Regions from separate parts of the Homo sapiens genome. Here region 1 is linked to region 2. Evidence: fine-mapped expression QTL. A gene starts in region 2. The other region holds a variant in brackets. All regions are shown on one strand. Distances are from middle to middle. Region 1 overlaps INPP4A (inositol polyphosphate-4-phosphatase type I A). Region 2 holds the start of INPP4A (inositol polyphosphate-4-phosphatase type I A).

Evidence for each region.
Region 1: its variant is fine-mapped to the expression of INPP4A in whole blood (TOPMed, PIP above 0.99).

The regions. Positions count from the first base shown.
Region 1 is chr2:98,502,165-98,518,303 of GRCh38, reverse strand. All of the region lies in intron 1 of INPP4A (inositol polyphosphate-4-phosphatase type I A), which reads right to left. Among named protein-coding and RNA genes, the nearest start is that of INPP4A, 65 kb to the right of the region's middle. RefSeq lists enhancers at 9,923-9,982, 10,443-10,502. The variant G/A (reference allele first, on the strand shown) is at 4,255.
Region 2 is chr2:98,436,441-98,452,579 of GRCh38, reverse strand. INPP4A (inositol polyphosphate-4-phosphatase type I A) reads right to left here and starts at 7,722. Exons shown (of 25, transcript NM_001134225.2): 1 at 7,495-7,722. RefSeq lists a silencer at 7,253-7,892 and enhancers at 13,770-13,819, 15,482-16,139, 16,012-16,139.

The sequences.
Region 1 (16,139 bases), 66 kb before region 2:
TGCCCAGGGACCTTCAGTCTGGGCATCTCTGCAGACACGGCAGTGGCCTGGTGGGGGAGCCACAATAAAAATCACCAAGGGGAAGATTTGCTGGTTAACGTCAAAAGGCACACAAGTGAAGCAATGTGCAATGTGACTGGTAAAACAGGAAAGTGCTTACAGTACTAATATCTGCTTTTTACAGTAATGGTTGTACACATTAACAAAAAACTCACCAAAATGCAAGTGGCAAAAGGTAGGAATTTATAAATGAGGAACACACATGGTAAACATTTTGAAAAAGTGACCAAACTCATTAAGTAACGCAATGCTAAATATGCTTTCCTTCACCTAAATTCGTCCTCCAAAAGAGTTTTGTTTGTTCTTCAATGAGAATACACATTGCTGGAGGACCTGGGGGAAGCTGTCTAGGACTCTCCTATATTGTTACTCCATCTTAGAGTAGTTCAAACATTCAGAAAGCCATCTGGCATTAATTATCAAAATTTGTAAATGATAACAAAACTCTTGCCAATAGTATAGAACATGGAAAAGACTACTGGGTAAAAATGCTTATTGCAGCATTACTTATAATAATAAAGCAATCCAAATGCCCAGCTATAGGTAAGAAAAGAATGTTCTGGAACATCCATAAGACACACTATTATCTGGCTATCAAAATGATCATAATAAAGCCAACAGACACAGGAGAAGTTCTTCAACCCCATTAGTCATCAGGGAAATGCAAACTGAACCCATGAGATACCTCTGCACAAGCACTGGAATAGCAAAAATGACAAAAGACCAACAGTACCAAGTGTTGATGAGGACGTGGAGTAACTGGAAGTGATACTACTGGTAGAGCGTAAATAGTCACCCGCGCTGGAAAACTGGCCGTCTCTACTTAAGTTGAACATGCACCTACCCTGTGACCTGGCATACAACTCAGAGGGGGAGCTGCTAACAGAAACGCACACTTATGCTCACCAAAAGCCTGTAGAGAAGGTTTAGAACAGCAACATTCACAGTAGCAAGATACCTGAGACAACCTAAATGTTCGTCAACAGTAGAACAGATGAAACAATGGGATGAGTCTCAGAAACAACGTCAAGGGGAAAAGTTAAGACCATTCTAGGCAAATCCATTCATACGAAGTTCAAGCACAGGCCAAACGAATCTGTGGCATCCAGAGTATGGAGAGTGGTATCCTGAAGGGGTGGGTACTGACTGGGGAGGGTGAGAGGGCTTCCGGGGCTCTGGAAATGATCTGGGTGCGGGTTACACACAGACTTTACTGTGTGAAATTCACTGAGCTGTACACAGGTGATTTTTATACCCCAATACAAAGTGTATACAAGACAACATAGCATTAAAAAAAAAACTTACGTGAGTTCTGCATCATGTGTTTTTAAAGAAATAGCCCACCTTTGCTCTGTTTGCAGCCATTTAAAGAGGTACTGTACAGAGGGGACAGCCAGCAGGCGGCTGCATCAAGATGACAGCCATGCTGGGGGTGTGATCATGGGGAACTGTCTTCCTCCTTCTCTAACAGCCATACTCTTGTGTCACTGAAGATTTGCACCCCATGCTGGCCAGAGGCAGGGCAGCACCCCAGGCATGACTTCAGCTTGAAGAAGAGGCTCTTCCCTTTTGAACCTTTTCCCAGTGTGTCTAAAGCATTCCATTGCCTGCCTTGCTGCCCTGCTCAGCCTGTTAGTGAAGGTGTCGGTCACCCCCTTCACTTATGACAGTGGAGACAGGCCACCTAACAGAGGGACACATCTGTACCCCAACATCCTGCCAGCCCTGGGGAAGCTCCGAAACTCACCCATGCCTACCCCTTTCCACCTCTCCCTGCAGGGTCCCTGCCCACTCCACCAGCCTGCTCTGCCCTTAGGAGGGTGGTTTATATCCTAGGCATCATGAGGTTTCTGGAGATAGAAATGCTTAAAGGGGTACATCTACAGACTAATTTTACACTTGAGAGAGTTCACAGGTCACGGAAACTTTTAGGTCAAAAAGACCTTAGAAGCACTTCATAGTTATTTGGGGACATTTAATTAGAATCTGCAATTTAAGTCATCAAGGCCCAGAACGCAAAGCTAATTTGCACAGCTGAACTCGATTTCTCTTCTTGGTCTCATTAATATAAGGTAATTCACCAAGGATTCGTATATTCCCAAGGTCCTTGTTTTTCCTCCCAGCTCCATTTGAAGACCAGAGTTCATTAGGAGGAAAAACTGCACTTAAGCAGAAGAGGAGACAGAATGTGTGGGAGCTGTCTAGGGGGCTGGAATTTTTTCTTGGGGTCAAGAAAAAAGAAGCAATAACCCATGAAGTGAGCAGCTCCCATTCCTCACTCTGCGCACTCATGTGACCCCTCCGACAAGAGGCGGCAGGCCATCAAGTGGACAGTAAACCCTGAGGTTCTATCCCACTTCCCATGATGTCCCTTCCAGCCATGGGGGGCAGGGAAAGGGGTGGTGGAGAGGGCACTGGCAGGACGGGAGGGGTGTTAGGATTCACACAGGACTAGTGAGGTGGCAAGGCCTTCAGCAGCAGTCCTGGGAAACGTTTGCCAGAGGCCTAGCGGGAGTACTGCAGGTCCCTCCACCTCAGGAACCTCTCAGGCTCCCCGGAGCTGGAGTTGAGGGGTGAGGATTAACACATCAGAGCTCCACTTTTGCTTATTCACTGGGGTTCTTCTAAGAATAATTTTTAAAAGGAGTTGCACGGATGAGGTCACGGATGCTCAGAGTGATTTTTTTCAAGGTCACATGGAGATGAAATATGAACTATCGTTATCAACCCAAAGAAAAAGCCCAAGTGCAATGGGGGCCCCTCTCCCTGCCCCACCCACCGGATCCCGTCCTACCCCACCCCCGTCCTACCCCACCACAGCCTATTGCTGTCACTGTGGCAGCAAATGGGCTGAGAAGCTTCACTGTGCCTCTGCTCTCCAAACACAGGCAGCACAAGAGAGAAAGTAAAATGAAAGGCTGGCATGAAGCTGAGCATGAGTCAGCAGCCTCTAAGAAAGAGGCTACTTTAGAGGGGCAGAAAGAGGAAAGGACTTACTCTCAGAAACCCCAAATCCAAGACAGCTAAAATCATAGATCAGTGAGGTGTCACACCATTCACTGGCACTGAAAGTTACTATTAATAATAACCTCAGAAAGACAAATATCACCTTCCTGCAGACAGACAGGAAGGATACTGCAAAGGATGCGGATGAACCTCCAGCTGGAAGAGGTGCACAGAGCAAGGCATGTGGGAAGGGCGTGGAGCTGCCCTGCCCGCCCTATGTGCCACTCTCCGGGAACCTCTGCATGCTCAGCTATCCAAAAGCTCCCAGAACTCAGTCCTTTGGAGTTTTGGGGTTTTGTACTTTTTTTTTTTTCCAGCTTTTAGAGACAGGGTCTTGTTCTGTCTCCTAGGCTGGAGTGCAATGACATCAGGCTTATTGTAGCCTCAAACTCCTGGGCTCAAGCCATCCACCCATCTCAGCCTCCTGAGTAGCTGGGACCACACGTGTGTGCCACCACATCTGGATAATTACTAATTTTTTAAAATTAGAGATGAGGTCTCACTATGTTGCCCAGGCTGGTCTCAAACTCCTGACTTCAAGCAATCCTCCCACCTTGACCTCCCAAAGTGGTGGGATTACAGGTGTGAGCCATAACACCTGGCCTCCTTTTGGGTCTTTAATGAAAGCTTCATTATAGACATAATTAACTAAATCACTGGCCATTGATTTACCAGCTCAACCTTCAGCCTCTCTCCCCTCCCCAGAGGTGGGAGGGTGGAAGACTGTAAATTCCAGCCCTCTAATCATGGGATTGGTTACCCTGGCAACCAGCCAAATCCTAAATTTAAGAGCCCCCAGCCACCAGTCATCTCATTAGCATACAAAGATATACTCTTACCGCTCCAGAGATTCTCTCATTAGCATACAAAGATACTCTTACCGCTCCAGAGATTCTAAGAATACCTCAGGAAAAGAGGGAGGTAGACCAAGTATATATTTCACAATACCACACCCCCTCTCTAACTCCAGGTGGGGCTCAGAACACCCTGAACACATCCCCTGAGCCTCCCCTACTCCCAATATTCCCTAGGCTAGGCTTGGACCTCACCACTCTGGAGACTCCATGGTGTGAGATGACTTTAACGTAAAGACGACGGGTTCACTGAAGTGGCTCTACTAGAGCTGTTAATCCAACCTAGAAAGAAAATGTGACCCACTCTCTACCACAGTGTTCCAGACCAGCCTCC[G/A]TTTCCATGGGTCCCCTAGGGCCAGATGGAAACTGAATCTACCCAGGGATCTACTCAGACCTTGTCTACACCTAACAGGGGTCCTGGGACCCTTGGGGGCTTCAGGGCCACCAATTCTTGAAGCCCAGCAAATAAGAGAACAACGGGCACCTAGGAGGACTTTCTATGACATGGCACAAACATGGGGATGGGCACAGGGTAAGTAAAATGCAGCCACTGATGCCATAAACTGAATGGGCCAGAGCCAGAATGGCTGCGGTGACAGGGAGGGGCAGCAGGGACAAGGCAAGGCCAACAGAGAGAACAGGAGCAGTAACTCCAGAATGGCCAAGCCCAAGGTGACCAGCAAACTGGAGGCTCCACTCCAAAGACAAGGCAGCACTGGCCTGTGTGCAGGCTTGCCACAACAGCTCACATTCTGCTCCCAAGCATCCGCTCAGGTCTGTCACCAGCCAAGGTACGTGCTGCATACAGCAAAGACCAGGAAGGCCTGCTTCCAAGTATTCCAGAGCAATAGCCAATGGCAGCAGAAACTTCCTCTGGTTTATATTTGGAATGAGTGAGTAAGTGAGTGAGTGAGTGAGTGAGTGAATGAATGTCTCTACATAACCAATGAGAAAGTTAAGTGCTATGAATCAACTTTTAATGCAAAGCAAATGATAAAACAGGTATGAGAAGAAGAGCGTGTGACCATGAGATGAGAACACACCAAAACTCATTCTTCCTTAAATATGGCCAACTTGAGGGGGCCGCCCAGGAAGAAGAGGATGTTGAACACTGGAGAAAACTGCCATCTGATGTCAAGTGGGAAGGGGTTGTGGGGTTGGCATGGGTCATAAAAGCAGAAGGACTGATTCTGGGAGGCGATGCAGGAGGAGTTGGGCCTACGATACAGCAGTTGGGGTCCTTGATTCTAATTTGCCCACTTTGGAGACTACTCCAACCCTGGGTGTCCTTCCCCATCCTACGGTGCAAGGGAATAGTGGAAGCAAGCAGGCCTTCCATTTTTTTTTCTTTCAAACAAAAGCCATCTGCTTAGGAAAGATCTTAACCTTTTAAACAAAGTCAAATATGCTTCTCTAGCATAAAATACAAAAACAAAAAATGCTGCCTCAAAGGCCCAGGTATTAACTAGGATGGAAAGGCCACATGCTGCAGGAACACGGACAAGGTGGAGGGGACCTGGGAGGGGTCTCAGGAAGGCCTTCCTCATGCCTCTCGGGGCTCTGGCTCCAAGCCCACCAGGCCCCCAGCACCCTGGTCCACAAAAGGCTCTTGATACAGTTTGAACGTGTTCTCCAAAGTTCCTGTGTTGAAAACTTAATTGTCATTCTAACAGTAGTGGGAGGCGGGGCACTTAAGAGGTGATTAGGACACGAGGACTCTGTCCTCATGAATGGATTAATGCTGTTTCTGTAGGAGTGAGGGGAGTGGATTCCCGATAAATCGGGAGTTTAGCCCGATTTCCTCTCTGTCTCTCATGCTGGCTTCCACCTTCCACTCTTCCACCATGGGAAGACCCTCACCAGATGCGGGCACCATGCTCCAGGACTTCCCAGCCTCCAGACTGTAAGAAATAAGTTGCTTTTCTTTACAAACTACCCAGGCTGTGGTATGTTGTTGGAGTAGCAGAAAATGGATTAAGACAGGTGTCAACACCTGCCCTTCCGCAGACTAAACCCTTGGATCAACCTGTGAGGCCCAGAGTGGGGCCTCAGGAATCCACCCACTTGCTCAGCTAATCCCACTTCAGATCCCTCCTCCCCCATAGGTGAAAGAGCTGCTGAGCTTCTCTCAGCCTCAGTTTCTGTATAACGGAAATAACACTGGTCTCACCAGGACACACTGAGGAGCAAGCACATATGTGAAGAAACACAGAAAACATCCGCATAGAGCTCAGTACATGGGCTGTCAGCCCTGTGAGGTTGTCACCTTGGCATGTGAGGTTCTCACCTTGGCTTTTCCTAACCTCCCCTGAGGCTGGCCCCCACAGCGCTTGTACTGGAGCCATCTGTGAGCCTGGAAGCCCTTTCTCTACAGCTAAGTCTATGTGAGTTTTACCCAACTTTCCTACCTTCTCCAGTTCCTCCAACCGGAACTTTTCACCAAGGTCCACGGTACTTTGCTTGCGCTACAGTTTATAATCACCAAAAATTAGGCCCAAAGGTTGCTATTGAAAAGGAACATGAGAGCACAGGCCTGTTCCTTGAAGCAATATGGCTTGGTGGCATGGGGGAGGGGAGCCCAGGCAATGGCATCAGACCTGGTGAACCGCTGTGAAGCATGTGACCTTCCACAGGGTCCCATCTCTGTGCATCAGTTTCCTCGCCTGTCAAATGAAGTTACGACTACTGTTGGAAGGAATTCAGAGTCTCCCAATCAGAGGAGTGTGAGTGGACCCTGGACTCCCAGGGAAGTGAGGTGGGTGCTCTGTCCCTCCAGGATAGACATCCATGTTCTGAGGGGGCAGCATCATGGTCCTCTTGTACTGAAGAGGTCTGCTTCCTCCTCCCCTCAGAGCTGGGGCCCAGCCCTCTCCCACCTCCCACCTCCCAGCTCTCTATACCTGCACAGGGCAGGAGAGGGTCACTGTGAGTAAAGCTCTGACTCAAAGGACACTTAACACCCAAGCATGCTGCAAAACATCCATCCAACGCTGCTAGGGCTTAAATACAGGAAAGTAATGTGCTTTAGAAAAATCAAGCACAGGGGCCCAGTAATCCCAGCACTTTGGGAGGCCAAGGCAGGCAGATCACAAGGTCAGGAGATCGAGACCATCTTGGCCAACGTGGTGAAACCCCTTTCTACTAAAAATACAAAAAATTAGCTGGGCGTGGTGGCACGTGCCTGTAGTCCCAGCTACTTGGGAGGCTGAGGCAGAAGAATCGCTTTAACCCGGGAGGTGGAGGTTGCAGTGAGCCCAGATCGCACTACTGCACTCCAGCCTGGGCAACAAAGCGAGACTCCATCTCAAAAAAAAAAAAATTGAATCAAGCACAGGAAGAGAAGTAACATGCTGGCAATGCGTATCCCTTCTCACCTGCAGACACAAATGACCTGACTTAGGGCCCCCGAGCTTGTGCTCACTGGGAGATGTTCATTTATCTCTGGCTTTCCATTTCCCAAGCCCTACTGTCTGCCAGTGATGATGGACAGGCAGCAATGGCAATGAGTTAACTTCATTTACTTAACTGACATGCCTCATTAGTTTAATAAATATGCTTACTACTATAATACAGGGCCTGAACCAGAATACAAATGCACATCCCAGACTCCAATGGAGGGAGTCAGTCACTGTGCTACAGTCTGAATGTGTCCCCCAGAATTCCTTATGTTGAAATGTAGCCATCAATGTGATAGTATTAAGAAGCGGGGCCTTTGGGAGGTGATTAGACCCTGAGGGCTCTGGCCTCATAGGTGGGATTAGTGCTGTATGAAAGGGCTGGAGGGAACTAGGTAGGCCCTTTTTGCCCTTCACCTTTTGTCATGTGAGGACATGGCAAGAAGGCCCTCAGCAGACCCTAAATGCCAGCGCCTTCCCAACATCCACAGGTCTAAGAAGTACATTTCTGCTGTTTACCAGTCTCAGTTATTTTGTTATAGCAGCCTGAACTGACTGAGATACCTTGGATAGGGACATGGATATCCCTGTAAACAAGAGGGCAGAGGAGGATGCTCCAGGAGCAGAACAAGCCCAGACCGTTCCAGCCTTCCTCTTTCACCTCACCAGCCCCTCAAGGTTTCCCATCTCAGTAGATGGAGTTCTGTCCTTCCACTTGCTCCAGGCAAGAAATAACATCCTGGCCTCCTCCTCCTCTCACATCCCACATCCAATCCATTGACAACTCTATTAGCTCTATCTTCCCCACAAGTACGACTTCAACTCCCTTAGTACCCCAACTCCCATACCCTGGGAATTTGACCAGCGTCCCTCCCACAGTCCTCACAGTCTGTGTCCAACTGCAATGACGGGGCCTGTGAACCTCCTAGCAGTGTCTTCATCCTGCTCCTGCCCTGGCCTCTTTGCTGTTTAGACTTTTATCTGGTGTGGCCTTTGCATCAGCCACCCTCTCTGGGACTGCCCTTCCTCAGATAACAAGGCAGGCAATTCCCTCACTTCTTTTATGTCCTTCTTGGTTCCCAGCTTCTCCTGGAGTTCTTTGGGACAGCCCAGTTTACAACTGCAGCTCAGCTCCTTGTGGTTCACCCATATACCATGAACGTTCAGGGGATTTTCTGTAAGAAGCAGTTTGAAAATAAGTTGCCCTGAAAAAAGTGCTTTAAAATGTTTGTGCTGAGCAAAACAGGTGCTCACAATCTGGGAGATGAGTGAGATGTGTCAATAATCACAAGCGCAATGTCTGGGAGGTGCCAGGAGCAGCCTGGGGTGGGCGGGGATCTGCCGACTGCCTTCCACACCACACACTTCAGCCACTCTTTCTTCAGCACCTCCAATTTCTTGCTTCTGCACCTCATGCTGTTTCTTCTCTGTAAACTGGCAATCTCTTTAACACAGCAGTCCCCAACCTTATTGACACCAGGGACTGGTTTTGTGGAAGACAATTTTGGGGGGCTGGTCAAGGGGAGTGGTTTCGCGACGAAACTGTTCCACCTCAGATCATCAGGCATTAGTTAGATTCTCATAAGGAGCACGCAACCCAGATCCCTCACATACGCAGTTCACAACAGGGTTTGTGCTCCTACGAGAATCTAATGCCACCGCTGATTGACAAGAAGTGGAGCTCAGGCAGTAATGCCTGCCACTCGCCTCCTGCTGTGCAGCCCAGTTCCTAACAGGCCACAGGCCAGTACTGGTCTGCAGCCCGGGGACTGTGGACTCCTGCTTTAACAAACAGTTGAGGGTCTATTATGGAGCAGGCCTTAGGGATACAAAGATGATAAGAGGCTTGGTCCAGAGCTACATCACAAAGTGTAACAAAGATGAATGGTAGACAACCTGAGGCCCACAATGGTGGGGGCCAAGCCTCTTCTGAAGCCTTCCCTTGGGTGAGGGGCTGGCTTGCTACTCTGTCCTTTCCAGGCAGCGGCACCCCTGGGTTCTGCAGCCAGGGATTCTGGGGCTTTTTCTTGAGGTGAATCAACCCAGTGTTCCCATACATGACCCCTCTCACTCCCGCGCACCAGGCCTCATTCGTCATTTGATTACCACATCAATTTCACAATACCACAGACAAAGACAACAGGAACACTGTACATGGCGGTCTGCTGTCAGAGCTGCGTGGTTAGGACTGCAGTCAGCGTGCACCAGGAGCAGCGCGGTTCTCTCTCCTACAACAGGCAAGGACTTTGACAAGTCTCATTTCTTACTCCATTGTCACTTGAAACCACTTGAAGCCCTCACACAATTAACTGAAAGTTTGCCCGTCTGTTGTCCAGGAAGTCCTTCCAGCGTGTCACATAAATTTCTGAATAAGTGTATGAAAGGACCGAGGAAAGCATCCAGTATTTCAACCCCCTCATCAAAGGAGACATGCTGCTCCAAGAGGGCCGGGAACTGAAGAGATAAGGACACGGGCTTCCCCGTGACCTGTGAGTTGGGCTTATCTCTGAGTGTGGGTCCACAATAAGGGGGGTATCATCACTCACTCAGAGTTGTTACTCAAAGGTTCATTCCAGGAGACGCAGCTGGAAGACTGTGGAGCATGAACCCAGTCTGGCTCCTCTATGGTGGAGGCGGGAGTGCAGGAGGCTCTAAACCCCAAAGCAGGCTGGGTGTGCCTTATTCATTGCCAAAGATGGTGATTTCTCTTCCCTTTTCTTCTTCCACCCAAACACAAAGCTGTCAGGCCTGGCCTGGTGCCTGCTCCTGCTTCCCTTGCCCAGAGCTGGCCACCTGGAAGCTGGACCCTGACTTGCCCCAGCCACTAGAACAGCCTCTAACCCGAGCTCTGCTTCTCTCCTTCTTCCCTTTCAGGAGAGGTGTGGCTGCAGCTGCTCATGGCTTCTCAGGACAGAATGCAAAGTGGGCGGCCCACATCCCAGCCACAGCAATGTCCTTTGCCTTGCCGTACAGTGTTTTGCATTCACCCCATGCCCTCACCACCCACCCCCTCAACCCAGGGGATGCAGTGACGATGCCATCATGGTAAGGACAGTCATGGGAACTCCTGCTAGCCTGGCTAAGACACTATATAGAGCAGCCAGGACGCTGTGCAGGGGGGTGAGCTTAGGCAGAAAGGCGTATTTGTCTCAGGAGTCTGGGCTGAGCTAAACACCTCAGCAGGAACATGGCTGAGCTGGCCCATTGACTCCAAGGCTGGCAGCAAATGTGGCCCTTCCCCTCTGCTTACCCATGTCCATCATCCTCCCACTCTGCAAATGAGCCAGTCCACATGGTGGGAGCTGAGACAGCCCCCAACTTGAAACTCTCCAGCTCCAGCCACCAGAGGCCGCCTGCATGGGTGCTCTCCCAGTTCTCTCCAGCTTGAGCCAGGCCCCCCAGGCTGGGGGTGGGGGTCACGTTGTAGCATGGGGGCTTCAACACTACCCATGAGCTTGGGTGGGAGAAAGCTCCCACAAAGCAGTGGAGCACCACCACCCCTTCAATCCATCACAACTTTCAGTAACCAAATGGAGATTTCCCTACAGCACGTGTTTCTTAAACTTTAAACAGAATGGTCAAATAACTCTCATGTTAACTAGATGGCTTTACATTGTATCAGACACACAACATAAACACATAATTAGTCATAAACTCTTTTGTTTAGAACATTTAAACAATTAGAAAAAAAGTGATCTATAAATTAACACAAGCAAACCCCAACACAAATGAACTCGGGTTTATATTCCTTTAATGTGAGGGATGGGATGGGCTGTTTTACAGAAAGGATCAGTCACGCATAACCTTGACACTACATCCTCTACCGTCACCCAGCCTGAGGCCAGAAATGGCCAGAATGGCCCCTTCAGGGTCCACCCAGCTATTTGGTCAAAACAGCAGTGGCCAGCGGCCACCATTCCACAAAAAAGTGAGTTGCCAAGCAGGGCAGAGGAGGGGGATGTGGCTACACCTCCCTGGACTGTGAACGAGGATCAAAGCACCCCAGACCGCAGACTCTCCAAAATGTCGTTTTCCTCCTCTGAATGAAATCAAGATTGTTTCAGGAAACAAACGCAGCTTTAGGGCTTGCTGTGTGAAAATGCAGCCCTGAAAATGCTGAGTTCCTTTCCTTGACTCCCCCTCCCTGCCACAGGGGAGTGCCCGCATTGTGGGCCACTCCAGGAGGCAAAGTCCAAATGTGCCCAGGACCCCTTCCTCTTGTGAGGAGCAGCCACCATTCCTCCCCTCGGTCTGTTCACAGCATCGTGTTCTCCCAGGACTTCAACAGTGTCTGCTGCCAATGCAAGCAAGGGACGTAGTTTCTCACAATGTTTCCAATCCACAGAAGAGGGTCAAGAGAGGAGGAGACCAAGAACTTCTCAGGCCAAGGTGCCTTCTGCCCGCTCACCTGCCTCATCTGGTCTCCATGGGAGGAAACACCTTGTCTAGAGGTCTCTGTAGGTAAAAAATCTCAAGGGGGAAGAAATATAAGTGTGAGCAACAACAACACAGCTTGCAAATGCTGCCCACATGTTTTGACTCGCCTGGTCCTCACACCACACCGCTGGGCTGGGAGAGACAGCTATTCTAGTTTGATGCCTGGGAGCCAGGCTCACAATGGTAGAGGGGCTCCCTCAAGGTCAGCAGCAGCAGCAGAAGTAGGACCTAAAGGCAGGCCTTACTAGTCCAGTGCTCTTTCCGATATGCAGAAGAGAGTGCAGAGCACATTAATTCGACTACTACCAAATGCTAATAAAAGGCATCATCTTTTTCAGTTGTAGAGTTCCTCATTATGTCCCGCCCTGTCCCCACCCATGTCTTCATAAGCATCTCCTGTGGTTACTCAGTCTCTGACTCCATCTCCAGCTTTTCCCATCAAGCAACACTAAATTCTAGTCAGGAAACAGGGCTTCCTAGAGAAGCAAAAGGCAGAACTTTAGGATGAGAGCAGATTCTTTTTTGTATCATTCATGTTTGATTTTCTTTTCTTAAATTAAGCTGAAATTAAACCCCTCGAAGAAATATTGTTATTGTTTCTGTCAAAAATAGTTAAAAAATAAAGTTTAAAAAACAAAAATTTGTGAACAGGATAAACAGACAAAACCTAGCCAACAATATCAACTAATAGCAAAGTGAAAAAGCAAGAATATTCTGTATTTCTAATGGTGGAGACAGGGATTCTATAAATATTGTACAGAAATAATATATTTCAACAGGAAAGTGGAAGGGGAAATGCACCCTCCTGCTGAATCAGCAAGACACAACTCAAGCCCAGGCGTCTGTGGTGACGGCTGGCTCTGTGAGCAGGGCTCCTCTGCTCTGCTTTTATGACTACTGTGTTTTATTTGTAACTTCCTTCTATTTACTATTACCAACAGGTTTTACTCAATCCTAATTTGGTAAGGGAAGAGTGTGCAAGCTGTTTTGAGAAACAGTCACCGCTGTCTCCAATTCTCTCTGGTGACATACACCTCACAGTTCAAGAATAAAGCATGTGTCCTCTCTCTCCTACAAAAGCTCCCACGTCCTCTCTTTCAGGTTCAACAAGGAAGCACTGCAGGGAAAGTGAACGAGCTCATCACTCTGGCTGGACACATAAAAAGTCAGGCCCCACATGGGAAACGCAAGCCTCCACCAAGGTCAGCCCACTCATGAGACACAACAGTCCCAAAGGCTCGCCCAGTACTTTTCCCCAAACCTAAAGGCAAAGTGCACCCTTGGAAGAAGAGGTGGGCATCCATGCCACCTCCTAGAGGGGTTGGGCAGATCCCAGCAGGAGGCTGCCTGAACCTTTTCTAAATGGGAAGCTTTGTGTTCTAGTTTATGCCAGGTCAGTGAGCAACCATTAAGCCAACTTTTGGTTTTGTTTACTAGAAAGCAAGTTATTAGTATAGTACTTTAATATTCAGGCAACTTTCAAAAGTCCATGCTAACAGAGCTTTGGGAAAACAAAGAAAAGACAGAGAGCCTAGAGTGAATCTGGTAAGATGGTCTCAGGCTTGCTCAATCACATGATGCAGAATGTCAAGGCCAGCCAAAGCTGTAGATCCCCCTTGCCATTGCCAGTCCTGCACCTTCAGCAGGATGGCACGTGGGCCTGAAGAGGCACTGAAGATTAACACCACACACATCATTTCCTTCTACAGCGCCACGTTAAGAGCAGAACTGATAATAAGTTGAAAGTTAATAATAACGTGCTTCAGACAAGTGGAGTCAGGCAGGCTCTGTTTATTTTTCTAAGCACTAGGAAAGCCTGCCTTCTAATTCGCAAGTGTCAAAATTGGCTTCACGAGAAAATAAAAAATTTTCTGAGTAGCAACAAAATTCCATAAAGGGCTATAAATGTGAAGCAACCATCACAGATCAATGAAATGCCGGGAAGACAATGCTATTTTAGAAACCAGGCAGTAAGCCAGGAGACTGGGGATGACCTGCCCAAGGCCTCCAAGTGGCAGCACCAACGTTACAATGCTGTTTCTAGCTTCCTCAACAACAAACTGAAATCAGGGAGAGACATCTTGGTCCTCTAGGTCCCATGGAAACACAAAGTGGTCACACATTCAGCAACTTTACTACATGTAGATCTCTGGCAAAGTGGTGTATAACCTGTTTATTTTAGCTGTGAAAATGGAATCCTGTTTGAAACATTCAGTGTTGGGGTGAACACTTAGCAGAGACACAAAAGGACTTCAGTCTTCCCTATTCTCATTAAAACAAATCAAAAGGGCAGCAAGCAGTCCTGATGTTTATATAGGACCTTCCTGGAGAGAGGGTTCTATGGCTTCAGCTACTCGGCTGTGTTGCTGGTTGTTCAGCGTTCCGTGTTTGGTGAGGGAGGACCCCCACTGGCAGTCCTCCATGGGCCTCTTCCACAGTGAACTGACCACAGCTCTTTATTGCAAAGCTGACAGTGGCTGGAATAATGAAACCTCAAAAAGAAATGCAGTTTTTAAAAGAGTGCAATAAGCTGTGCCTCTGAGGCCCATGCCCTTCCTTGGGCAGTGCTCTGTAGCTACCCACCAGAGCTGTGGTTGAGTAAGTTCAACCATGTAGGGACAAGTGCCAACTGACACGCAGCACCTTCATGCTCAACAGCAACATCTGCCTTCTTCTCATGTGGCACCTCTTCTCAACCAGCAGCAAAGATCAGGCTAATAGGGAAGGGACCAGGGCAGAAGACAGGAGCCCTGCCTGCAGGAGAAGGAGTCTCTGTCATCCTGTCACGCAAGCCTGGTTTGATGACCTGAAATGCCTTCTGATGAGAGTGTCCAAAGGAGTCTGTAATCTGGAACTGTCCATTCATCTGTTCAACAAGTACTGAGCTAGGCACTTACAGTGAACACACAAGTGAATCAGAAGTGATCTCTGCCTGCAAGAATCCAACAGTTTAATGATGGAGTAAAACATTCAGATAACACAACTCCAAGACAAAATGAGATGCATGCCCCATGCTGCTACAGAGGCAAGGAAGAAGCTTGAAATCTGGCAAAAGATGATCCAGATGAGGTGCGAGTTGATCTGACTTCAAAAGGAACAGGCACAGGTGCATCCAGCAACAAGCACTCACTCAGGAAACAGGAAAGTCTTGTGTATCAAGGACAGAGAATGGGGCTGGAGAGCCAGGACGAGGTCAATTCTGGAGATCCTTTAACACCAGACCACAGAGCTGGGTTTTAGCTTGCAGGCAGTGAAGAACTCCCTAGGATCTCAATTGTTCAAACCAATCTCAAAAGTCCTGGTACTCTCTTGGACTCTCCTACTGGGCTTTTGAAGACAAATCTCTTTCTCACTTGGGGCAAACCAGGGAGGAACCTGCCCACAAGAATTGCAATGAGCATCCCTTCTCACCAGCAAAGACAGACCCCTGCTCAGACCTGGCAAAGCTGGGTCAAGATGGCACCCACCACCACATGAACAGGCAACATTCACGACCAACACATAAAGGGCAACTCGTTTGTCCCAGGAGGTCTCCAGGGGTTCTAAAGGTCCATTTGTCATCAGCACAACTAAACCTAGTCCGTCCAAACTCCCTATCTCTGAAGGAAGCACTGATTCTGCAAATATAAAATAAAATCCAATAACTCAAAAACAACAAAAGAAACTAAAACCACTTGGGTAATTCAAGAGGGCAAGCAATTTCAGGTCTATTAATAAAACCCTTAGAGCAGGGCCATCTTTTGCCTTTGAGCTAGGTCTCCTTGGTGACCTCACCCATAAACAATGCAGTAGTGAGACTGCTCACAAAAGTCACAAGAACTATTTTCCCTTTGTTCCAGAAAGATTCCTAATCTGGTTGTGGTGCTGTTTCCATGGAAAATGCTAACGAGTAGGAATATCAATGTGAAAATAAGACAATGTTGAGGTACTTTCACCATTATCTCTTTCTCCAAATTTTACATCTGAGTTATGAGAGGGAGAGAATACATTGAGAACAAAGGCCCTCACAAAGTGTCTCCCTGTCACATATCATATGTAAAATTACCACCACCAAGAGCAGTGACAGTGAAAGCTAATTAAAATCTCTATGTGTGCTTTTACATTTTTTAAAACACTCTTGGTAGCTGGGAAATAAAGAGATCAGGGAAAATGTGACTTTGGAATTCATTTTTTAGAAGTATTCCCATCTCCCACTGGAAGAAACCTATAGAAAAACTAAAAACTGTAAACCAACATGTAGCCACCTCAAGCCCCCACTTACCACCCAACTTCAAGCCCTGCCTCTGTACATGCAAACCAGGACACTGACAGTGGAGCCACTGTGGGCAGGCCTCTGGCAGAAGGAATGCTCTCTCTCATCTGGAGAACTCAGCCAGCCCAGGAGAAC
Region 2 (16,139 bases):
GGCTGGCCACCCACCATCCTCTCTTCCTTCTTGCTATTCTAGGACCTAACCTCCTCCCCGGTCCTCAGGAAAAGTCAGCCCTGTCTCCAGCTGGGGAGTAGGGGAGTCTTGATTAAACTAAAAGAGCTGTTCTCCAATGTGACCTTGCATCAGAATCACCTGGAAGTCTTCTTAAAGCACAGCTTTCTGGGCCCCATCCCAGAGTTTCTGATTCAGTGGGTGGGGTAGGATCCACTAATCTCCAGTTCTAACAAGTTCTCAGGTAATGCTGATGCTACTGGTCTGAGGACCACACCTGGAGGACCACCAGCCTAAGCCAACCAGCACACAGCACTCTCACAGCCTCATGTTGCTGGTCCAGGGAAGGCCACGTGACCCTTTGCTCCACAGGCCAGAGGGAAGGACTGGTAGACACTGTGGCTGGGGAATCAGCTGCTTTGTCTCCTTCCCTGCTCCTGCTGGACAGGAACAAGGAAGCACGCAGTCCCACTGCCCCCAACGACCATCTCAGAATCATGAGGAGACTAACCCCCTAGGATGAAACCGGCAGTGATGGCTGGACAGAGGAGCAGAATCGAGGTCCTTGATGAAACTGCTGACATGCTGATGGAGACTCCAGTTCTCTGAGATAATAAATGTCACTGTTGGCAACCAAAAGCATCCCAACTGACACACCCCATAATCCAGGGAGAAGCTTGAACTGGGCATCCTTGTTTCCTAGTAGAGCCCTGTTTCCCAGAAACAACCATCTGCCTAAATACTTCCTTCACATTTCCAGAGTTTATACACTTAGGTCATCCTTCTTGAAAATTCAAATTAATTGGTTTGAGAATACACCCTTTAGAGATGCAAGCAACATGAGAGAGGGAAAGAAGGGCGTTCAATATGCTAGGGTGAATTAATAATAGACAGCTTCCATAACAGCAGCTGACACCACCTGCGTGAGGGCTATGGGAGGGGCAGGAAAGGGGCAGGGGGTTTTCAGGAGACATCAGAATACCACCTAGTGAGGTGCAAAAAGAGGGGCGCTGCAGCAACCGGAGGTCAGGAAAACTACCAGGTGTCTCAGGGAAAGCGCTCTAGGAGGATCCCAGGACCGGAGCTGGCAGCGGGTAAACACTTTCCTCTTTCAGAGGTCCCCACCCTTCTTCCTGGACATCAGAGGACATCCCTGTCTTCCTGACCCTATTCCAGAAAATAGACCTCACCAGAGCATGATCCCCCCACTGCCCCCACCATATACATCTGCTTACTGTGCCTAAGTCCCTCGCCAGGTGAGCCTCACTGAACAAGTTTCATATTAAAAGGCCAGCAGTCTCACCCATGCTCCAGGTTAGGGCTGTGGGCAAACACCAGAGGCCAGCTGGGCTGGCTGGCTGGCAGGCCTGGGCCTGACAGCCTGATAGGGCATGACAAAGGTATGTGCAAAGACCAGAAAGAGACATGCACACTGCACCCAGGACCCTGGCTTTCCAATCCCAGACAGGCTATGGTGAAAGGGACAGCTAAGGCCGGGTGCAGTGGCTCATGCCTGTAATCCCAGCACTTTGGGGGGCAGAGGTGGGTGGATCACCTGAGGTGAGGAGTTCAAGAACAGCCTGGCCAACATGGTGAAACCCCGTCTCTACTAAAAATACAAAATTAGCCAGGCATGGTGGTATATGCCTGTAATCTCAGCTACTAGGGAGGGTGAGGCAGGAGTACTGCTTGAACCCAGGGGGCGGAGGTTGCAGTGAGCCGAGGTTGCAGGCTAGAGCCACTGCACTCTAGCCTAGGCGACAGAGTGAGACTCCATCTCAAAAAAAACAGAAAGAGACAACTAAGAGATTAAATCCACAGAGGAAAGGCTGATCTAATTCCAAGCTCTGCCAACCACCCACACTCTGTATACGAATCCATTGTAATGCTTCCGTTCTGCACACTTACTAGGCACCAGGATTAAATGTTAATTCATTTAATCCCCCAACAAGCCTCTGGGGCTGCTACTACCAGCAGCCCAGTTTTGTGGATGAAATAACTGAGGCACAGAAAGATTAAGCCACTTGCCCAAAGTCACACAGCTAGCTGGATGCTCACAGAAAGTGCAGCACCAGAGTCCACAATAGTTCTAGGGATAAAATAAATGGTTTCGAAAGATGTGTATGCTCAGCAAAAAGGACTGTGTAAAAGAAATTCCTGATTTATAAACCAAAATACTGAAAACAGAAATTGTTGATACTGGCAAATCCAGGTAATCAATTTTTATCCCTCATTGAAAAGCTTTCATTTTTCAATCCTGTGAAGGAAGTTAGGTGATATAACTGGGTTTTAGTCCCAGTTGAGCCTCTTTTAACTACCCTCGGGGGATGCTCTAACCACTCCTCAACACCACAGCTCACCTTTGGACAGAACCTCCCACAGGATGTCCAGGGAGGCCTGGCATGCAGGGGGTACTCAGAAAAGCTTGGGTTCCTTGTCATTTAGGACTTTAAAAAAAAATTAAAAAAGCATCACACTTAAAAAAACATTCTAAAGCTGCCAAGAATAAAATTCAAAGTTACCGTAACTTCCACAATCTAGTAAGATAAGGAAAAACAGCCCAACAAGAAAAAATGAACAAAGGATATAAACAGGTAATTCATTAGAAGTTAAAATATACATTAACAAGAAAAGGTATCCAATATTTTTGGTAATTTGGGAAATGCAATTAAAACAATAATGTCTTCCTTGCCCATTAGATTGGCAAAATTAACAAGATTTATTCTCTTAAATGTTGGCCAAGTTAAAGGGAAACAGACAGTTTCAAAGCCTAATGGAAGGAGTACAAATTTAAAAAGCAAGCCACAGAAAATTTTGTGTAATGTGACTACATTTATGTTTACAATGAGAGCATCTATCCCCTGAGAAGGTCTAGAATGGGTGACACCTCAGTAGCAACGAGAATACATAGTGCCTACATCTCGGTTTTTATACCACTCTCCACTAAAGGAAACCAGGACTCTTTGGAGAAATGGCTGATTCCAGGGCTGGGACAAGGAAAGTATAAGCTGAGTCCTTGAAGATTTTGTGCCTGGAAGAAAAGTCCTCAAAGAATGATGAGCACTTGTCAAAAGGACACAAAAGCCAGACTGAAGGGACTCCCACTGGCCAAATCTAGGATAATTTGAGCAACAAAATGCATAATGGGAGTAATGGACTATAATCTATTGAATAAAGCAAGAATTCATGAGTCCAGTGATGTAAATCAAAAAGTAAATAATAGAGAAAGGAAGGTTTCTTCCTTTCAGTACAGTTCCAACTAATAAATATAGAAGGAACCATGAAAATCATCATCTGCCTACTATCATAATAATTGACTCAGGTAAGAAACATCAATGAATTCTGAAACTAGTCAGTTAATTGTATGAGCAGTAACTATATTTACATAGTCTCAAATTCTCTTCCTTTAAGACACAGATTAACTACAAAGGGAAAAATGGTAACTTTTCCATGAGATAGACACCACCTTAATTCAAGTGATCAAAGTTAGCAGGGCCAGAGAATGGGATAATCACAGCATATGCCTCCTGATGGGATACATTAAGAAGGCTGCAGCATTATTCGGGCACAGTGGCTCACGCCTGTAAACTCAGCACTGTGGTCGGCCAACGCAGGAGGATGGCGAGAGTAGGAGTCTGAGACCAGCCTGGGCAACACAGTGTGAGATCCAGCCCCTATAAAATATTTAAAAATTGGCCAGGTGCAATGGCACACACCTATAGTCCAGCTACTCAGGAGGCTAAAGCAGAAGGATCACTGAGTGGAGTAGGTCCAAGCTGTAGTGAGCTGCCATGGCACCACTGCACTCCAACGAAGGGAGACCTTGTCTCTTTAAAAAAAAAAAAAAAAAAAGAGAGAGAGAGAGAGAAAAGAAGACTACAACTGCTTCAACCTTGTGCTACTCCCGCCAGAAGTGCATAACCTGAATCTAATCATGAAACCACAGGAAACCCAATTGAGGGCATTATCTTAAAAAGTCAGTAGTCTTCAAATATGTCTATGTCGTGAAATACAAAAGAAAGACGTGGTAACTTTCAGATTAAAGGACACTACAGAGACAGAAAAACTTAATGCAAAACAGATGATCTAGGATTTTCTTTTGCTATAAAGGACATTATCGAAGCAATTGACAAAATCTAAATACGACCTGTACACTAAATAGTGTTATATCAACATTAATTTCATGATTTTTTTTTTTTTTTTTTTTTGAGACAGTCTCACTCTGCTGCCTAGGCTAGAGTGCAGTGGTGTGATCTCGGCTCACTGCAACCTCCACCTCCTGAGTTCAAGAGATTCTCATGCCTTAGCCTCCCAAGTAGCTCGGACTACGAGCACACGCCACTATACCCAGCTAATTTTTGTATTTTTAGTAGAGACAGTATTTCATCATGTTGGCCAGGCTGGTCTCAAACTCCTGGACTCAAGTGATCCTCCCACCTCAGCCTCCCAAATTGCTGGGATTATAGGCATGAGCCACTGCGCCCGGCCATGATTTTTTTTTTTTTTTTTTTTTTTGAGACAGAGTCTCACTCTGTCCTCCAGGCTGGAGTGCAGTGGTGCGATCTCTGCTCACTGCAAGATCCGCCTCCCAGGTTCACGCCATTCTCCTGCCTCAGCCTCCCAAGCAGCTGGGACTACAGGCGCCCACCACTAAGCCCGGCTAATTTTTTGTATTTTTAGTAGAGATAGGGTTTCACCGTGTTAGCCAGGATGGTCTCGATCTCCTGATCTTGTGATCCGCCCGCCTCGGCCTCCCAAAGTGCGGGGATTACTGCTGTTATGAATATCCTTGTTTTTTGGGAAATACACAGTGAAGTATTTAGAGGTAAAAGGGCCTCAAGCCTGCAACTTACTATTAAGCAGTTCAGGAAAAAGTAGTAACACACAGGAATACAAGAGAATGATAAAGCAGTGTAACAGAATGTCCACATTTGGAGAATCTGAGAAACCTTTGGCTTATTCTTGCAACTTTTCTGTAAGTCTGAAACTATATCAAAATACTAAAAAAAAAAAATTAGAGAATAACATGTGCATATGAATAGAAATATAGGTAAATTCCCTGGGATTAGCTTCATGATGGTATTTTCCTTAAAAACACAGAGACAAAATGAAGCAAGCCTGCATGGGCGTTAATATTGGTCTCCTCAAAATATGTTTTCCTCACAGAACTTCTGTTTTAGGACACTGAAAAAAAAAGCCGTTTCGAAGGCTCTCTCAAGACCAGCTCATTAATCAAGTTCTACAGAAGCACCAACATAATCAAGCCTTTTTCGCTGCAGATTTGTGCTATTTTTTTCTCAGTGAAAGTCAAAGCCTCCTGACACCATGAGTAGTTGATGATGTTGTGGCAACTTTTCTGGAATACTAAACTGAAAAGGAGCTTTTCATTTAAAAACGAAAACAGGATGAAACAGTCTTGGTGGAAAGCCTCCCCCTCCACTCTGCCTCACTGAACTCTTGAGATGTTAAGCCCTGGGCTGGGGATCAGTGGGGCAGTCGGTCCCACACCGCCTTCAGGTCCATTCCCGTGTGCATTTGAAGAGATGTTGGCTGAGAACGCTCCCTCTTAGGCAGGCAGCTGGTTAAAGGGACTTGCAGGGCTGATAGTTCTCTGTCATACACATCCCATTTTTCTAGTGCTCTACAGTTTACAAATAGCTCTCGTGTATTATTTTATTTCATCCTTCCTTAAAGTGATTTTTTTTTAAAAAACGCTAATATTCAGTTTAACAGCAATACTACAAAATATCCAGTTTTGAAAACAGGGAGGCACTATAATATCTGCCCTTGGTTCTGAATCTAGTTGGGAAACAAGACTTACCCAAGCAGATTAAACACCCTGAGACAGAATAATCTAAATGAAAAAAGTAGCTACATGATGAGTAAGGTGGCCAGGTAAGCAGACTAATTCTATAAGGAGCTCAGTAGAAACACAATGTTTCTTTCTCTTTGAATTTGTCCACATCCATTTCTTTAAGCCTTTTCTTCAAGCCAAACTCTACCAAGCAGCTCTGGCTTCACAGGCGTGTTTACTAGACATCACAGGGAATGAGGCACCGAGAGGCCCGTTCACATGCAACGCCACCCCTGGGACAGACAGCATCACGGCCTCCTGGCACCACTCCTGCAACAGACCAACCACACTGCCCTTCTTACATGGGCCCCATCATTCATCTTTCTTCAAAGAAAACAGTACATTAGCAGTCGACACTTCAGCAAAGAACCCCCAAAACAAATGCCCTAGCCTAGATCCAAAAACAAAATTTCCGTTAAAGAAAGTGTGTTTTTCAACCAAAGAAAAATTAGGCTCAATTCTAGGACAACCTATAGCAAGCAATTCTACGTGCACTGGCCAACGCCAACAGCAGCTAGATTCCAAAACAAACTCAGCAAAAAAGGCTCTGCTCTCACCTTTTAGAGATAAGAACCAGAGTCAGCAAGCGGCAGAACCATGATTCACACCGAAGTCAACCCACTCTGTCCTCAACCCCACTGGCTTCCCCATGGTCCACACAACCCACTGTGAACAGATGGACCAGTCAGAATTTCTCTGCAACACCCAAATCGCCACCCCACCCCCATTCCCTTGGTTTAAATGCCCTGAGGGGCAGGCGACAAATCAAATTCCACTCTTAGGCAGGTTCCCAACACAAGACACATTCAGTGGCAAAGCAAAAGAGAAGATGGGCTCTACCACATATAGGTCTTTCTTACCCAGAGGAACATTTTCATGGTCTGTCATTACGGATGAACTCGGGGCAGGAAGAACCCATCATTATGTAATGTCAGAGGGCAGGCGACAGGGGAAGGGAAGCGAGACCATCAACATTCCCTTCCTTCGCCCACAAAGACACAAATTTACCTCTGACATTTTGAACGTCTGTCTTCTGGGGCCTACCCATTCCTGGCTGGCTTTTCAAGAGACAGCCACAGATCCCTGCACATTTCTCAGGCCTCAATTAATTGACTAGCAAAGCCAGAGAGAAATAAAATATAGAAAGCAAAGATGCTAGAAATGTTGTCGGGGTCTAAAGGCAGGCAGAAAATGGAAGAGTTTCGAGGATGGAGACCAGATTTCCCACACGGAGATGCATGTTTACTTTCACCCGGTTATGTTTCCACCCCAAACACGGCAAGGCCTCCAGCTTCAGGAGCCCGTAGACCCAGCCCTGGAGCCGCATCGGGCAGGCACCGCGTCTGCGTCCCGCGGCCACGCGCCCGCTCGGCACCCGGCTCCCTGCTGGGGCGGCCGCGTCTTCACGGGGCTGGGGGTCGGCCGGGCTCGGATTGTTCTCAAAAGACGCCACCGCAGGTGGACCACTGGCACCGTTAGGCAGTGCAATTTCCATGAAAACCGCGGGCGCCGTCCACATCCGCCCCAGCGGGGACCTGGACGCGCCCCCGCGCCCGCTGTCCGTCCCCGGCCCCGGCCCCCGCGGCGGCCGCGTCGCCTCCTGCCCGGCCCGGCCCACCTACCTGGCGCTCCCCGGCCCCCGGCGCCAGCCGCCCCGCTGTCCCGCCGGGCTGCGCGCCAGAGCCCCGCAGCAGCAGCAGCGCCGCCGCCTGGCTGTGAAGTCGCGGGCTGCGGGCCCGGCCTCAGGTGCTGGTCCTCCTGCCCCGGCCCACGGAGCCCGACCCGGCGGCAAACCAGCAGCGAACCCTCCACGCGCGCCGCAGCCCTAGCCAGCCGCCGCCGCTCTAGACGCCGGGCGCAGCCCCGCCCTGGCCCCGCCCCCTTGTCGCGCATGCGCGCTGAGGGCCCGGCCCGCGCCCTGCGACCCCCGCCCCACTACCAGCCCGAGCTGGGTCCGCCCTCTGAGACAGTAGGGCCGGTGACCGAGCTGCTCGCGCCAATTCCTACTGCTAGGTTCCCACAAGATCCCACCCTATCCTGTGACTGCTTCACCTGCAAGGAGTTCTTGAACTTCTGGACTTGACTGAGCGATGGCATCTTCACCCTGTCATCCACTGAGGCATCTGAGGCCCTGACGGATCCCCAAGGGAAAGTTTCCTGGAGGAGCCGCGACCCGGGGATGCGCCCCCAACCTTTTGCCCTCCGGACAAGAGCACTTCCTGAAGTGCAGACGTACTCACTCCCCAGGAGATGTTTAGGAAACTGAACATTCCAACCAGACAAGCAAAAAATTAAAATCTTAATTCTTTGAAAATACAGACTTGCAAAAAAAAGAAAATTGCTAACCTCTAAGTGTATGTCCTTCCGGACCTGTTCTGGCCTGTGTGCATAAGTGTGCACTAACAGACTTGCAACAGCATCAGTCCTTACACTTTGCCCCAAGTTTCTATTTTTCCATAGACAAAAACAATAATCAGAAGTTTTGGAAGAAAATTTTCACTTTGACTTTAAAACAGCATTTCTCCTTGAGCAAGGGCAAATACTGGACTGAATGTATCCTTATCTTTGAGTCTTCACATTTTATCCGAAAAAAAAATTCTTAAAATGATTTTAATTCAATAAACCAGAATACTTCTCAGGCAGAGCATTTAAACATATAATTTGCTTCAAAAACAAAAGAGATTAACCAGTTAGGAATGGAAATTAAGAATTCTCTGAACTCATTTAGAATTATGTCTGATCCTCCTCATGTCACCAAAATACAGACAATAGTCTGGAATAAAAATAAACAAATATAAAACGAGTTTTTTGGGGAGCCTGAGGCAGGAGCATCGATTGAGCAGAGGAATTTGAGGCTGCAGTGTCAGCCTGGGAGACAGAGCAACACCCTGTATCTCTAAAAAAAAAAAAAAAAAAAAGAAAAGAAAAGAAAAGAAAAAAGAAAAAGAAAATGTCCTAGTTTTAAATTTTTATTTCTTTACTTTTTATTTTATTTCTCTTCTGAAAAGTAACTTAGTAATAAAACAGTTCCCTCTTATTATTTCTCCAGCTAAATGGAAAGAAATATTGACAGAACCTTGACTCCACAGTACAAAGTTAAAGCCAAGAAAATCAAATTTGTAGAAATGCAAAAATATTTTTGCATTTTTTTTAATTACTGTGACCAATTAGTTTGCTTGGAACAGCCCCAGTTTACATCTTTTTGCAGCAAAATTATTAATAGGGCCCTCTTTCACTCTCAAATGTATTCCTGTTCAAACAATAAATTTTATGGCCATGCTGTTTATTTATTTATTTTTGGGATGGAGTTTCGCTCTTTTTGCCTAGGCTGGAATGCAATGGCGCGATCTCGGCTCACCGCAACCTCTGCCTCCCAGGTTCAAGCAATTCTCCTGCCTCAGCCTCCCAAGTAGCTGGGATTACAGGCATGTGCCACCACCCTGGCTAAATTTGTATTTTTAGTAGAGACAGGGTTTCTCCATGTTGGTCAGGCTGGTCTTGAACTCCTGACCTCAGGTGATCCACCCGCCTCGGCCTCCCAAGGTGCTGGAATTACAGGCGTGAGCCACCACGCCTGGCAGTCATAATCAAGCTAAGAAAGTTGTTAAACACTAACTTTTAAAAAAGAAAAAAAAATTAAATTTATAAAGATTTAAAAATAGATATCAGTCTAATTTCAGTATTCATTCATTTAGTACAGTAACACTGAATGAGGATCAGCTTCCAATAACATCTGTCACTTGACTGTTATGTAATTCTGGATAATCTTCAAAGATCAATCACATTTTCAGTGTGGCAAAGAATGAGGCCCTAATTCCACCGTAGAATGAAAATTATCAAGAGAAAAGGGAGCCATGTGTTAGTTAATACTGTAAAAGGAAAATAAAATCTCGGGACCCCCAAACTCACTACTCCAAAGGGAAAAGCTAAGCTTGGGAACTGAATCATGCAAAAAAAACTGCCTTCCTTTTGTTCCTAAAGAGATAGCTGCAAGATAGAAGGCCACATATCTCCCCAGGTGGCCTCCCTCACCCTGACAATGTAAATTAACAGCTTATCGTCACAGGAATGGGACAAAGACAAGCGGAGGAATCATCCTTCCACCCACCCCAAGACAAATGCATATTTGACCTCTTCCTCTACTCTCTGTTTACTTACCTTATGTAAAAATGCATAATTCACTGTTCTTCTTTCCCCTCCTGCCCACTTTTTCCTCTTTAAGTATTGAAGTCCCCAAAACCCTCTTGGGAAAAAGCATAGGCCACAGATCCTACTGATCCTACTGTAGTTTGTGCCTCATTTTCCCAGTTGCATCCTCAACCTTGGCAAAATAAACCTCTAAATTGACAGATCTGTCTCAGACACCTTTTGGTTTACAATATCATGCTATATCTTCCCTAAGCATCACGATGTGATAGCTAAGTATGCTGGTGGTAAAGTATCTCAGTCCTTCAGAAGTTCTCAACATGGGGTCCCTAACCAGTCACATCAACATCCTCCCAGAACTTGCTAGAAATGCAAATTCCCAGACCCCATCCCAGATCTGCTGAATCAGAAACTCTAGAAGTGGGGCCAAGTGACCTGTATTTTAACAAGCCCTCCAAGGGATTCTGATGAACATACTGACTTAAATGATCTATATACAATAAGTAAGCTTAAGGGAGGGGACCACCCCTCATATTGTCTTATGCCCAATTTCTGCCTCCAAAGAAAGAAGAAGTAAAAACTGAAAGGCAGAAATGAAATCCACAGGCAGACAGCCCAGCGCCGCGCCCTAGGCCTGCTAGTTAAAGATTGACCCCTGACCTAACCAGTTATGTTATCTATAGATTCCAGATATTGTATGGAAAAGCATTGTAAAAATCCCTGTCCTGTCCTGTTCCATTCTGATTACCCGTGCATGCAGCCCCCAGTCATGTACCCCTACTTGCTCGATTGATCATGACCCTCTCACACGGACCCCCTTAGAGTTGTGAGCCCTTAAAAGGGACAGGAATTGCTCACTCAGGGAGCTTGGCTCTTGAGACAGGAGTCTTGCCGGTGCTGCCGACTGAATAAACCCCTTCCTTCTTTAACTCAGTGTCAAGGAGTTTTGTCTGTGGCTCGACCTGCTGCAAGCTGATTCAGATTATCTACATACAATAATTAAGAGGTGAACAGTGTTATCTTTAGGACTAGAACCATCCTACATGAGAATTTATCTTCAGGCCATTTAACAGGATATTTTTGTAGGGATACAGTCAGCTATCCAAATCTATGGTTTCCACATCCATGGATTCAACCAAATCACAGATCAAAAATGTCTGGAAAAAAAAATCGCATCTGTACTGAACTTGTATGGACTTTTTTTTCTTGTCATTATTCCTTAAACAATAGAGTATAACAATGATTTACATAACATTTACATTGTATTAAGTATTATAAGTAATCTAGAGATGATTGAAAGTATACAGGAGGATGTGCATAGGTTATATGAAAAAAACTACCCCATTTTATATAAGGGACATGAGCATCCATGGATTTTCATATCCACCAGAGGTCCTGGAACCAATCTCCCATGGATACTGAGGGACGACTACATAGAATATGTGTAACCTTGAGGCTGAGCACGGTGGCTCCACCTGTAATCTCAGCATTTGGGGAGGCTGAGGCGGGAGGATCACTTGAGGTCAGGAGTTTGAGACCAGCCTGGCCAACATGATGAAACCCTGTCTCTACTTGAAATATAAAAATTAGCCTGGCATAGTGGTGCATGCTTGTAATCCCAGCTACTCAGGAGGTTAAGGCACAAGAATCACTTGAACCCAGGAGGCAGGGGTTGCAGTGAGCCTGGGCAACAAAGTGAGACCCTGTCTCAAAAAAAAAAAAAAAGAAGAAGAAGAAGAAAGAGTATGTGTAACCTTGAAAACCAACAGCCCTGCAACCATAAGAGCAGTCTAGCAGCCACTGGAGGGACAAAAAGGATGTGGAGCACCTGAAAGAGCCCCATCCCCAGAGTCTTGGCACTATTTACTTGTCTGGCAGCTTCCTGGAAAAGCTACATTCCCAGGGTTTGTCTTTAATTGGCATAACTCAGAGCTTGCCCTGTGCAAATGGTCCTCTCCACAGGGCATTGTTGAAAACAATCAGTAACAATTGTTTAATATTACAGCAGCCTCAGGTAGTGACACCAGTTACAGCTAACAATAGGCTGACTGAAAAACTTGAAAAAGAAAAATGAAGAATGAGATGTCCATGGGGAGGGGGCATTAAAAAGATTTAACATAAGCTGCCTGGTGGCACATGCCTATGGTCCCAGCTACTCAGGAGGCTGAGGTGGAAGGATCACTCGAGCCCAGGAGTTTGAGGCTGTAGTGTGTTATGATTGCACCTGTGAATAGCCACTGGACAACATAGCAAGATCTCAACTATGCTATGGGCAACATAGCAAGATCTCATCTAACAGAAAAAAAAAAAAGATTAACATATTTCTGGAAATCTGAGAATGCCCAGGTTTTACTTCTGGCTAACTGTGAGGCTTTGAGCAAGCAGGATGTGAAGGCTGAGGCAAAGCTGTGAATTGTCTGCCTGAAAATTGAAGGCATGCATTAATATGCACACATAGTCCCACCATAAACAAAGGAAAAAAAAATCTTTGATTCTAGCATTTGAGGAATGATAGAGCATTTCTCTCATCATTAGTGAACAATTAAGCTAACTGAGTAAGGACTACAAATGGCTACAGTGACGTATCAGTGACTACAGATGACAAAGAATACAGACTTTACAAAATTAGTCCAAGAAAGGCATCAAAGAAATAAAAACAGTAACAACAGCAAACCCTGGGGGAAAGGGAAACATGGTTTTCAGAGTTGCCACATTACATTATTTTTAGTGTCTATATTTTAGCAAAAAGTTGTAAGACACATAAACAGGCAGAAAAGGACACAGGCTGGAAGGCAGTCAACAGACTGTCATTAAAAATGCATAAATTGTAGACTTACTAGACGAAGACCTAAAATTAGCTATTATAAATGTGTTCAAAGAACTGATGGAAACCATGTGTCAAAAATTAAAGGAAAGTATGAGAACAATATCTCACCAAAAAGAGAGTGTAGTTAAAGATATAGGAATTATATAACTATATATAAAGAAACTCTGTAATTGAAAGGTATAATAACTGAAATGAAAAATCCATTATAGGGGGACAATAGCAGGATTGAGTGGCAGAAGAATTAGCAAAATTGAGGATAAGTCCATGGATACTGCCTAGTCTGAGGAACATATAGGAAAAATCAATGAAGAAAGATGAACAGAGCCTAAGAGATCAGTAGACGCCATCAAGTATGCTAAGATATATCTAGTACCAATTGGGAGTACCAGAAGGAGAGGAGGGAGATAAAAGTGCAGAAAAAAATATTCACTAAAACCTTTCCAAATTTGATTTAAAAATTAATCTATAATCCAAAAATTTCAACAAACTCCAACTAAAATGAACTCAAAGAGAAGCATACTGAGATACATCATAATCAAACTGTCAACTAAAATGAACTCAAAGAGAAGCATACTGAGATACATCATAATCAAACTATCTAAAACCAAAGATGGAGAGACTCTTGAAAGCAGCAAGAAACAAGCAACTCCTCATGTACAAAGAATCCTCAATAAAATTAACAACTGTTTTCTCACCAGAAACCATAGAGACCAGAAGGCAGTAAGATGACACATTCAAAGTAATAAAAGGAACGGAAGGAAGAGCAGACCTAGAATTCTATATTCAGCAAAACTGTCCTTGAAAATGAAAGAGAAATTAAGACTACCTCAGACAAACAGAAACTGAGTGAATTCATTACTAGCAGATCCACCCACTAAGAAGCACTAAAGGAGTCCTTTAGGCTGAAATAAAATGTCATTAGAGAGTAACTCAAATTCATACAAAGAAAAACAACTAAGGCAAATTTAAAGTCAGTGTGTAATGCCTTTCTTCTCACTGATTTAAAAGACAACTGCATAAAAAGTAAGCATAAGTCTGTGTTGATGGGCTCATAATGTAAAAAGATAGAATTTGTATGACAATAATAGCACAAAGAAGTGGGGGAGTAAAGAGAGCTTAACTGGAGCACAGTTTGTGTATGTCATTGAAATTAAGTTCTAAAAACTCAATTGTTTTAAATTGAGAAGCTAACTGTAACCTCCAGAACAAATACTAAGAAAATGACTTTATGTATACATATTTAAATAAAACCAGGAAATTAAAATAGCATACTAGAAAATGCCTATTTACCACAAAAGAAGACAGTAATGAGTAATAGAGGAACACACAGGATATAAGATATATAGAAAATACACAGCAAATGACAGACATCAGTACTACTTTATCTCAAGTTATATTAAATGTAAATGTGGCTGAGTGTGTGGTTCATGCCTGCAATCCCAGCACTTTGGGAGGCTGAGGTGGGAGAACTGTTTGAGGTCATGCATTCAAGTCCAGCCTAAGCAACATAGTGAGACCCCATTTCTAGAAAAATTTTTTAAAATATTAGCCAGGCACGGTGGCTCACACTTGTAGTTTCAACTATTTAGGAGGCTGAGATGGGAGGATCACTTGAGCCCAGGAATTTTAGGCTACAGTGAACTATCATTGCACCACAGTACTCCAGCCTGAGTGACAGAGCAAGACTCTGTCTCAATCAATCAATGGATCAGTAAAAATGTATTAAATACTCCAATCAAAAAGCAGAGATTGTCTGAATGGACTTTTAAAAAATATGATCCAACTGCACATTGTGTACAGAGATGAATGTAAATTTTAAGGTATAAATAGGTTTAAGGTAAAATGATGAACAAAGGTATACCACAGAAACAATAACCAACAGAATACTGAAGAAGTTATACTAATATAATACAAAACAAACTTAAAACAAAACAAAAATACTACTGACAAACAGAGACATTTTATAATTGTAACAAGTTTAAACTATGAGGAAGAGATAGTAATTATAGACATATATACATCCACAATAGAACCCGAGAATACATGTAGCAAAAACAGAATTGAAGTGAGAAGTGAACATTGTAATAGTAGTAATTGATTATTGCAGTACTCCACTTTAAGTAATGGATAAAATAATGAAGTAAATCTAAAAGGATATATAAAACATTAACAATACCATAAGCCAACTAGATTTAACAAAGTTGTAGAATATTCCACCCAACAATAACAGAACATACCTCATGTTCAACTGTACATGAAATATCCTCTAGGATAGATTATATGGTAGGACTTTTAAAAGCCTAAATAAATAAAAAAGAATTGAAGTCATACAAATTATGTTCTCTGAGCACAATGGAATTAAAACAGAAATCAACAACAGAAGGAAATTTGGGAAATTTACAAGTAAATGGAAATTAAACAACACAGTTCTCGGTAACCAAAGGGTCAAAGAAGAACTCAGAAGGGAAATTAGAAAATATTTTGAGAAAAATTAATGTGAAAACTCAACATACTGTTGCAGAGCATTGCTCCTTAGTTCCCCTAAACTCTGGTTCTTGTCACAAGACCAGGAAAATTTAGGCACACAGACGACACACTGAAGGGTGAGTAGAGCAGGATATTATTGGGCAAAAAAGGAAAAAAAAAAAAAACTCAGCAAAGCAAGACGCAGTCCTGCTAACAGGACTCACAGATTGAATCCCAGGCCACTACACAGGAAAGGAGAGGCCAGGCTCCTCCCCACTGCAAACGGCACAAACTTTCCCTGGCTCCACCCTGTTCTCCCAGTGTGCAGGCCCATGGGAGGTTCTCTGGGGACCTTCCCCCTTATCTGCCTCCTGCATCTATCATTTCCCCCTCTAAAGAAGTACATCTAACTGCTGTTAGAATAAGAATAAGGATCAGGACAAAGGCCGATCTTAACTGCTTCATGCTGACAGGAGGCACTGTTTGAGGAAAACGGCAGTCAGAGCTCCCTCAGAGGCCTATCTAAGGGTCCCTGGCAGAAGGGGCTGTGGTCCAAGGCTCCAGTTGCATGACCGTTTGGAGTTTCACGGCCTGAAGGCAAGAAAAGACAAACTGGGTTATTAGAAAACATATATCAGCCAGGTGCGGTGGCTCATGCCTGTAATCTCAGCACTTTGGGAGGCCAAAGTGGGCGGATCACTTGAGGCCAGGAGTTCAAGACCAGCCTGGCCAACATGGTGAAACCCTGTCTCTACTAAAAATACAAAAATTAGCCAGGTATGGTGGTGGGTGCTTATAATCCCAGCTACTCAGGAGGCTGAGGCAGGA